2 separate regions of the Homo sapiens genome follow, and region 2 is linked to region 1. Evidence: fine-mapped QTL for protein levels in blood plasma. Region 1 holds a variant in brackets. A gene starts in the other region. All regions are shown on their reverse strands.

Region 1 (5,381 bases):
AAGGGGACGATAAATTACTTATGCAAATTCCTTGGAGTATATGATAAAGGAAGGCTTTGTGGATATGTGTATGCACTCAGAGTGGAACGCTTCTGCTGTGCAGTGTTTGCTAAAAAGCCTGATTCCTGGCACGTGAAAGATAACAGAGTTAAGCAGTTGACCGAGAAGGAATGGATCCAGTTCATGGTGGATTCAGAACCAGGTTGAGGAAGGAGGATTGGCAATAAGGATACCTTTGGCTTGGGTGGCAGGAAGGTTTTATTGTATCTTTGGGATTAGGGACAAGATTAAAAGTCTTCAAATTTCAACATCTCTGGTGGATACAACCAATACTTCCCTGCCTCTTGTTTTCTTCTGCACACTTAGAAGATAGATATTCCATACAATAACTAAATATCTACTCTTAGTAGCCTTATCTGATGCAAAGATTCTAGATGTTTCTTCTCTACCATTTCTTTACTCACTTTCAAGGAAAGCCTGTTCAATTCTTTTCGTTTTTCTTTCAGGGCTCATTTTCTGTAACTAACCATTGCTTTCTTTTGGGAACACTTACTCTTTTACTTGCTTGCTCTTTCATCTTTCTTTACCCACTTTCCATTTATTTCCTGTAAAGACTTCCCCTCTTCCTCTCACATTTATGAGCCAAAGAGTAACCTAAATTGTACCAATAAGAGAAGAATAATGCTGATATTTTATCTGGTTTTGGAAAAGGAAAGCCTCCAGTGAGATTAGACCAGAACTAGCAACTTACAAAATCTCTGAAAATGCAAACTTGTTCCTCAGAATCTGCATAAAACCCAGTTTTCCTTCACTAGCCATCACATTCTTCTAATTTTAACTTGTTTTAAAATAAACTCAGTTATATGGCAATGTATTAAATTGCTATCAATGCATTTTTACTGTTAATTTTCCTTCCAAGTATAGAGTGTTTCAGCAGCATCAAGAGTTAATTTTACAATTTGTATCTGACCTAGGAATCTAACCACAATATGTAACCACAATATCTAATGTTCTGTATTGGGAATGCAGGATCAGTTCTAAGTAGACGTTTGGTATACTGTGCATTAGTTAGCTTGAGTCTCTCCCATGCCAAATTAAGAGCGTGATTTTTGTTTTCTAACATTATTCCATAGTATGTGAGGAACTGCCCTCTCCAGCAAGTACATCATCACCTGTCTCCCAGAGTTATCCTCTTCGTGAATATATTAACTTCAAAATTCAGCCACTGAGATATCACCTTCCAGGTAATTTAATTCTGGCTTCCGTGGAGTTGTTGGTGTAACTGTGTTCAAACCTCCTTCTCTTCAAACCAGCTCTGTCTTGATATTTGTTATGGAAGCACATTCTTTTGTTTATGGAAATTCTTTGGTGTTTTTAGTCATTGAATTTGTCAAATTCTATTTCTTTAGGTGCCTAAGTAGGGGTAGAATTGTTCGTTCAGGCAGTGTGTGAATATTTAAGTAATAAGATAATGTCAAATTATTTCCAAAGTAGATAGCTCACTTTACTTCCACCAGCAATATATTGGAAATGCCACATCTTTTCCAATGCCAGACTTCTCTCTTCATCTTTCTACTTGAACTTCTTTTCTCTTGAACTTCTTTTCTTCCTCAGTCAAATCGGTATTTATTTGGGTATATACATGGAAGAAAATATCTCCCATAGAAGATATTTTATCTTCTATGAAGTGGCGATTCTGTCTTTTGCTCATTTTTGTAATAGGCTTTATCTTTTTCTTACTGATTTCTAGGAGCAATTCACAGATTCTAACATAAAATCCTCGTTTAGTCACAGATAGTACAGATTTCAGACGTCTTCTCCAAGTTCATGACTTGCATTTTCTCTTTTCCCAAGGCATATTCTCCCTAGCAGTTTTAAATTGGATATAGTCAAACTTGCCATTTAAAAATTTTGTGGTTTAGTGCTCTTTGTGCCTTGTGTAAGAGATCCTTCCCTACCCCGGGGTTATAAAGATATTTCTGTTTATTTTCTTTTAAAAATTTTAAAGTTTTGCACTTAACATTTAACATTTAAATATGTAATCCACATCCATAAACGGTGATGTAGGGGGCTATTTCATTTTATCCCATGTGGATAACCACTTTTCCTAGATCCAGTTACTGAAAACTCAGTTTCACCTGCTGATCGCCACCTCTGGGATATTACTGCATACAACTGACCCTTGAACAAACTGGGGCTTAAGACCACCAAACCCCTGATGATTTTTATCCATTGATTTCAATTTTCTGAGCCTGTAAGAGGATCAGGACATCTTCATCTTTTCACCTATTTTATTTTTGGGGGGTTTTAAAAAAGATGTAACAGTTATTTTAAAGTCCCTCTTTGATGACTCCAATGTCTGAAGCACTTGCCAGTCTTTTTCTATAATCCAGTTTTTCTCTTATTTTCTAGTAATTTGTTCTGATTTTTATCCTGTCTCTTAATTTTGTATAGTATTATGGATTACAAATTGTAGAGACTTTAGTAGATGTTACATTTCTTCAGATAGGGTTACACATTTTTTTTTTTTTTGGCAGACAGAACACCAGTGATAACTTTTACTCTTTTGAAGTTTTGTTTTATGCTTTTCTAGGTATAGTAGCTTTTAATTTTGCACTAATTACTAGGTCATGGCTCTTCTGGGGTCTTAAAGTCTGGGGTATTTACCAAGACCCTTCTACTTGGCTGGGAGTTGAATTACAATTTGTGTTTCCTGAGCACCGTGAGGCTGATGAAAGTGATGTT[C/T]AGCTCTTTAATCTCCCAGTTGATCAGTTGATATTTTCTCCTTCCTTCCTTCTTTCCTTCCTTCCTTCCTTCCTTCCTTCCTTCCTTCCTTCCTTCCTTCCTTCCTTCCTTCCTTCCTTGCTTTCTTTTCTTTCTTTTTGTGACAGGGTTTCACCATATTGCCCAGGCTGGTCTCAAACTCCTGGGCTCAAGCAATCCACCTGCCTCGGCCTCCTAAACTGCTGGGATTACAGGCATAAGCCACCACACCCAGCCCTAGTTGATATTTTCTTCTGTGTTTCTAGCATCTCACCTGTATTAGCCAGTGAGTTGAGGGAAATTTGTGGGTAGATTTTGGCTTCTTCTCTTCAGTTTCATCTTCTCTGGGATTTTGTTTCTGAAATCCCAGCTCCTCTGGCAGCCCTGAAGTCTGACCTCTGTTTTCTTTAGCCCAGTAAAACTGCTGATTTCTGCATGGGCTCTATTTACCCATGCTGTGATATGGAAAATCTCCTTAGGGAAAAAGCAGAGGTGAATGTGAAGCTACTTCCTGTGATTCTTCTGTATTAAAGATTGTAGCCCTTTAAGTCCTGCTTGTATTGGTTGCTCTCCAGTCCTTTAAATTATAGTTTTATGATATATATATATACATATATATAAATTTAAAAAAATATATATATATGTAGAATTTTTTTGAGACAGAATCTCATGCTGTTGCCCAGGCTGGAGTGCAGTGGCATGATCTCAGCTCACTGCAGCCTCAACTTCCTGGGCTCAAGTGATCCTCCCACCTCAGCCTCCCAAGTAGCTGGGACTACCAGCATGCACTACCATGCTTGGCTAACTTTGTAACCTTTTTGTAGAGAAGAGGTCTTACAGTGTTGCCTAGACTGGTCTTGAACACCTGGGCACAAGTGATCCTCCTGCCTCTGCCTCCCAAAGTGTTGTTATTACAGGTGTGAGCCACCATGCCTGGCCCTGATACACTTTTACATAGCTTTTATAGTTGCTTTTGGTGGGAGAATTAATCTAATACAAGCTGCTTTGTATCCATGGCTTAAGTTGGAAGTTCTCAGTCTTTTATAATTTATCATTATTTCCCCATCTAGGGCTATCAGAAAAGATAACTTGTGCTCCAAAAACCTTCTGCAGAAATCTGTTCTCACAACATGAAGGACTTAAGCAATTAATATGTGAAGAAATGGGCTCTGTCAATAAGGGCTCACTGATCTTCTCTAGGAGCTGGTCTTTGGATCTGGGCTTGCAAGAGAACCACAAAGTCCTCTGTGATGCTCTTCTGATTTCCCAGGACAAGCCTCCAGTCCTATACACCTTCCACATGGTACAGGATGAGGAGTTTAAAGACTATTCTACACAAACTGCCCAAACTTTAAAACAGAAGCTGGCAAAAATTGGTGGTTACACTAAAAAAGTGTGTGTCATGACAAAGATCTTCTACTTGAGCCCTGAAGGCAAGACAAGCTGCCAGTATGATTTAAACTCGCAAGTAATTTACCCTGAATCCTACTATTGGACAACAGCTCAAACAATGAAAGACTTGGAAAAGGCCCTTTCAAATATCTTACCTAAGGAGAATCAAATCTTTTTGTTTGTTTGTTTGTTTCGTTTTTGTTTGTTTGTTTGTTGGTTTGTTTGTTTTTTCTTGAGATGAGTCTCACTCTGTCACCCAGACTGGAGTGTAGTGACACGATCTCGACTCACTGCAACCTCTGCCTCCTGGGTTCAAGCAATTCCCTGCCTCAGCCTCCCGAGTAGCTGGGATTACATGTGCCTGCCACCACACCTGGCTAATTTTTTTTTTTTTGTATTTTTAGCAGAGATGGGGTTTCACCGTCTTGGCCAGGCTGGTCTTGAACTCCTGACCTCGTGATTCAACCCCCCCCCCCGGTCTCCCAAAGTGCTAGGAGTACAGATGTGAGCCACCGCGCCCGGCTGGAGAATCAATTCTTTTATAGACCAATTAGCCTTTGACATTTCCAGCATCTCCCAGATAATCAGTATAGATAAGGATGTTTAAATCTTGTCCAAGGCTCACTTGAATCATGGAAGATGGACTGGGCTACAGAGATATTTTTCATTATATATTTGGTAACATTCTCTAATTCTCTAAAAATACGTCTTTGAAAACATTGCAAGTTAGGCAACTTGACGTGATGTTGGAAAACTGGGATTAGCCTATGTTCGCTTCTTCCTAAGTTCTTTATAGATATTCCTTAAGGGAAATTAGAAAAATTAATTACCTACACATGTTTTGCCATACCAAGATGTCATTTGACTATAAAGGAAATATCAGACATTCTTATCCAATGGACATGGAAAACATAGTTCTCTAATATCTTCTTGAAAACTATATTGCAATGAAATGCAGCCAATGAAGAGATGAATCAAAATGGAGAACTTGCCGAGTTGGATGGATCACTTGAGGTCAGGAGTTGAAGACCAGCCTGGGCAACATGGTGAAACCCAGTCTCTACTAAAAATATAAAAATTAGCCAAGTGTGGTGGCACACACATGTAGTCCCAGCTACTCGGGAGGCTGAGGCATGAGAATTGCTTGAACGCAGGAAGTGGAGGTTACAGTGAGCCAAGACCACACCACTGCACTCCAGCTTGGGCAAGAGAGCAAGACTCTGTCA
Region 2 (5,341 bases), not on the chromosome of region 1:
TTACTCATTGCTATATTTTCTATGCCCAAGACCTGTGCCTGGAACATAGTCTGTGTTCAGTAAGCATCTGCTGAATAAATGCATGAATGTTTTCCTTTGCATCCCATTGTACGAGGTGGGAAGCAAAAAGTAGAAAACATAGGACTAGACTCTTGTACGAATGTGCCTGAGGGTCCTACCTCCAACATCTACAGGAGAACCCATATAGCAAGGGCAGGACCTGATTCTTGTGGTCCCATCTCTCCACAGAGCTCTGGCAAAAAGGGTATGGAAGTGACCAGACTGAGGAGGATAAGTCCCCTGAAAGAGTAATCATTAAAGGATGTGAGACATTATCAGGCAGCATGGATGAATGAGAGAACTACAAACAAACTGGATGCATCCCACATCATGCTTGCATCTTGGATGTGCTACATTCATGTTTTTAAATGAGTGAATGTGTGAGAACAGGTGACCTGGGAAGAGGGGCCAACTCACAAAATGATGACAGATATGGTTAGATAGGTTTGAATAGCCCAAACAATGGAAGACCTGAAATTGAAGGTCATAGCTGGATATGAAGCAGTGAAGAATCTTCTGGACTTTGGGGCAAGGTGTGAAACAATGAATGAATGTAGGGCTGAGTGCAGTCAGTCCAGCCAATCCTCATACATTTACTTGTGTCCTGCATTGCTGGCATGTCCTAGGTATTTTACATAACACCAAAAAAAAAATGCAAGAATGGCCTTGGGAAGGGTGGGTGAAAACCCTCTAAGAGCAGATGTTTGGCTCTGTCACATGGTATCATCTTTGCTTTCTACACTACTTTGGACACAGGTGGAATCTTTCAGCTCAATTCTCTATTCAGCTCAGGGTCAGCTCAGTCATATGCTCTCAAGAGTGTGCAGAACAATGAGTCTCTTCTTTATCATCCCTCCATCTCCACCCCTAACCCCCATCTATGAGCTCGGTGTAGTGGAAAGCATGCAGGATTTGGAATCAGATGACCTGGACTTGAGTCATGAATTTGCCTCTTTCTGTACGACCTTGAACAAGTTGTCTAAGTTCCAAGAGCCTTCAATATCTCATTCTGTCATATCACATAATAGAAATGATAATAGTCATTTTTTTCTTACAGTGTAGTTGTGAAGGTTATGTTGACCCACTGCCTGGGAAAGTGGTTACTACATTAACTGAAAGCAGAAAGAAGGCCTGACCTCAGAGTGACAGAGACCTTACTCTGTAGTTATGTCTTCCTTCCCTTCCCCACCTCACTGGAAAACAATTGTGCAGCTACAAAGTGCTAAACAAACAGGGTTGAGACTACTGAAGCCAAAAACAAGACAGAAGGCACTCAGGAAGCATAGATGCACTTAAAATGAGCTCCTGTCCCCAAATCTCAATGACTTGCTCCCCATGGTACTGCAAGATCTTGGAGGTGGGATTACAAAATTGGTTTCTGCAATCAAAACAGCAGCCAACTGGGAACATACACAGGGGGTGACACCTGCTTACAGCAGTTCCTGCAATGAGGGCCCAGGGACCTCCATTAGCTATAGGCTGAAGATGAGGTGACAGTATCATGAAGTGGCCAAGAGCTATGGTCAAACCAAGTTGCGTAATAGAATTCCGAAAAATGAAGGCAGGAGCCCCTGCCAACTCTAGGAGCAGGATAATTTCCTCTTAAAGTTTCTGAGGGATCGGGAGATATTTATCTGGGAAAGATGCAACAGAGGAAAGACACAAAATACTTGGTGGGCTAAGCTTAAAAGAAGGGGGAGACTTATTCTGAGTTACTTTATAGGACAGAAATGGAAACTAGAGGGATCATGGAGGCAGATTTCGGCTCAACATGAAGAACTCTCTCACCACTGAGCTCTAGCACTGTGGAACAGGCTGCAGTGCCAAGCTGCAGCAGTCACATTGCTGGGAGGGCTGTATGGGACCCCATGACACCTCCTATGGACGCTGTGTGAGAATGCGGGGAGCAGCCTCCAGTGGTAGGAGGGAAGTTGGCTAATGTTCAGCTCAGAAGAAAATTAAGCCTAATTTCCCAAACTTTAAATACATATTTCACATTCAGCCAGGTCCCCACATGCTCAATGTCAGGATTCCTTTCCTCCCGGAGCCCTGACAGCCAATAATAGTAATAGCCACCAATTTATTATGACCACACCCTGCTCTTGAGAGAGGAAATAGCAGCTCTACACTTATGGTAAGATAAATGTTGCTACACACCCAGCCCCAGTGTCTGTGTTTTAGGCTGTTTTTCCAGGGTCCCTGAGCATCAAGTGGGACCAAATTTGCTGGTGCTGGATTCTCCATTACACTGTGCACCAGTCAGCCGGTCACTGATTCCCTTCCTCTCCTCATTTGCTGTCTGTCATCCTCGTCCTGGGTTCCAAGCTGGAACACTCTCAGACTGTATCTAGACAAGTCCAAGGGCTGTTCCTTTTACAAGGTAGTGCCGGTAGTGCCATTTGCCCCTGGGAGTCTTCTGCCTGGAGTATATCCAGGCATTAGGCTATCCTGTCCCCGCCTCAGTGTGAGCATTAGACCTTTTCATTTGTCCAAATGGCCATTCATAGAACACACGAGTAGCATGCTATGCTGGAGAAGGAACATTGAGTGGAAGGGGCATTTTCCTCACAGGGTCAAATTCTCACAAACTCTGTCCAGGAAGAGGTTATATTTAGGAACAGTTTTGCTTTTCTAGTTCAAGGAATACAAATAGCAAGCAAGCTATTGGGACCAAGAATTAAACAAAAAGTAGGTCCACTTGGAAACTGTAAAGTGAAACAAAATATATGCCAAATTATTTCTTTTAGGTATAAGGGGGGTGACACTGGCTGAGACTGAGCTGGGTCTGGGGGAGCCCAGTGACCCTCTGCGTGCAATCCTCTACCCTTAGACCAGCTCTCTTAGTTACAAGTAGCCTGCATGAGAAGAAATGGAGAGAAGAGAGAGAGAGACATGGATCAGACAATGGAGTTGATTCTTCAAACCAGCCCCATGGATCTGAAACAGCTCCCAACAGAGAGAAGATGTAGGCGGAAGAGAGACAGTCAATTTGAAAAGGGCTTTGGTTACTCAGAGCACAGGCCTTTCAACCAGGTGAGAGGTCTGGCCATTGTTACCTGGTTCTAAGAAAATGCTGAGGCTCCATAAAAATATGTCACCCTGTAAAATTCCACCTCCCATTGCTGAGCAAAATGCCTGGGACTGTTTCCCCTCATTTCCCTGACTCCTTCCCTGTTGCCCCCAGCAGCCTCCTTCCCTCCTGCAACCTCCATTTCCTTTTGAGACAGCTCTGATTAGTATTTTAACCTGATGTCACAAGGTAGAAATGTCATTGGGAAGTTAGGGGACTTTGTAATGTGATTTTCTGCCTCCCTAATTTATCTCTGACATATCAAAGGGCTGCGCTGCCAAGGACCCAGGACTACGGGGTAGGAAACACTGAGGAGTTTCTCCTACCCCAGTGCCCATCTCTCCCAAGCATGCCCAGGTGCACACACCTGTCTTGAGCTCCAGCCACAAACCCACTGGAATTGGGAAAGGTAAGATGAGGAACTTGGTGTCTCAGGGATGACTTACGGTCCTTAGTGCTCCAAGAGGGGATGCCCATGCTCGTTGACTTACCAAAGAGCAGCACAGCCGTCCAGAGCAGCATGGGGCCTGTTCTGGCACAGCGGAGGGAACACAGGTCAGAAACAGGTCAGGGCGAAGCCGGCAGAGAGCAACCAGGCCTCAGGACCGAAGGTGGGTGGGTGGCCTGAGCTGGGTGGTGCTATAGCTTGATAGCCAAAATAGGAAGTGGAAAAGAAACTTACAAAGCTCTAATTGATATTTCCTCTTTGGTTGAAGAAGTATTACATGAATAAATTTTCCTGAACACTAAGTATGAAGGAGTCGGTAAATCACTAATAAATCCCTGACATTTTCTGCAGCTTCAACAAGCCTATGCCAGGGAACTAGGATGGAACATGGTTATGGGACACCTCCATTAGAAAGGTCCAGAGACTGCCCGAATTTGCTTGGCTTCAGCGTCATTCAGCCTGGGAGACAGCGCAGCACTGTAAAACTAAGATCATCTACCCCTTGACCACCGAGTGACCTCCCAGCTTCCAAGGAGCTCCTGTCTCCAGAGGTAAATGTGTGTGGATGCTGCAATGCGATGGAGAAGTGGAGCCCTGAGGATGCTTCACAGGATCCTCAGTTCAGGAGGGAATCAGACATCGATGAGTCTGGAGTAGAACACAGATGGAGCTTCGGCATCTGAGGCTTTTAAGACTGTCAGTATGATTTTGAGAACTATTCCTTAAAAGACACCATTAAGAGAAGGAACAGGCAAGCTGTGGTGTGATGAGATAGTTTAAATACATGTAGCTGACAAAGGGCCCACAGAAGAAATATAAGAATTTCTGCAAGTCAGTAAGAAAAGGACAGACAACATACTAGAAAAATGGGCAAAAATAATTGGATAGGTACTTCACAGAAGCAGATATCCACGTGTCAAATCAACATAGCAAAAGGAGCTAGACATCATAAATCACCGTGGAAATGCAAATTTAAACCATAATAAGATACCACTACACCTTCCATAAGAATAAGGGAGTGATACCAGCTGAGACTGAGCTGGGTCTGGGGGAGCCCGTGACCCTCCCCATGCAATCCTCTACTGAGTATTGGTGAGGATGTGAAGAAACTAGAACTCTTGTACACCACTAGTGGGAATATAAATTGGTACAGTCACTAGAAAATGGCTTGGCAGAATCTACCAAAACTAAACACAGGGATCCCTGATGGCTCAGCATTTTCACTCCTGGGTAAATGTCAAACAGAAATGTATACATATAAGCCTGAAAAAACATATACAAGAGTGCTCATAGCAGCATCATTTGTAATAGATAAAAACTGGAAATTATTCAATGTTCCCTCAACAGAAAAAGAGGTCACACATTCTCATCTCCTCTGTGGACAGAACATGGGAGTTCACGGTGAAACACAGAGTCAGGCAAAATACTAGGAAGCATTTTCATTTTCTTGTTTCTTTTCTTTCTTTTTTCTTTTTTTTATTGAGAAGGAGTCTTGCTCTGTTGCCCAGGCTGGAGTGTAATCTTGGCTCACTGCAACCTCCGCCTCCCAGGTTCAAGTGATTTTCCTGCCTCAGCCTCCCATGTAGCTGGGATTACAGGCATGCACCACCATGCCTGGCTAAGCATTTTCTGACAGTAAAGTTCTTCCTGGAAATCTTTAAGTGAGAAGTTCTACATAGTCTGATGGAATTTGATGTGCCTATTGCTGAGGCCAGGAATGGACAGAGAGAATTTTCTAAGTTTTCTTGCCCTAGATTGTCTGA

Alleles and levels. Alleles are on the strand shown, and positions count from the first base shown. The strength of an association depends on the size of the effect and on how common the allele is.
With allele C in place of T in region 1, the plasma level of the protein whose gene starts at base 3,717 in region 2 is higher (weak association).

The links. PIP is the posterior inclusion probability: the model's chance that the variant is causal. The UK Biobank Pharma Proteomics Project read protein levels with antibody pairs (Olink). The fine-mapping took linkage between variants from a reference panel, not from the people measured, so its PIPs are less certain.
Region 2: FCRL6 starts here. The variant in region 1 is fine-mapped to the plasma level of the FCRL6 protein (UK Biobank, PIP above 0.99).

The regions. Positions count from the first base shown.
Region 1 is chr17:35,473,938-35,479,318 of GRCh38, reverse strand. SLFN12L (schlafen family member 12 like) reads left to right here. Exons shown (of 5, transcript NM_001363830.2): 3 at 1-202; 4 at 1,134-1,244; 5 at 3,834-5,381. The coding sequence ends at 4,396. Among named protein-coding and RNA genes, the nearest start is that of SLFN13, 28 kb to the right of the region's middle. The variant C/T (reference allele first, on the strand shown) is at 2,746.
Region 2 is chr1:159,800,736-159,806,076 of GRCh38, reverse strand. FCRL6 (Fc receptor like 6) reads right to left here and starts at 3,717. Exons shown (of 10, transcript NM_001004310.3): 1 at 3,622-3,717. The coding sequence starts at 3,652. LOC105371464 (a long non-coding RNA gene) reads left to right here. Exons shown (of 3, transcript XR_922195.2): 1 at 1-3,539; 2 at 3,930-4,129.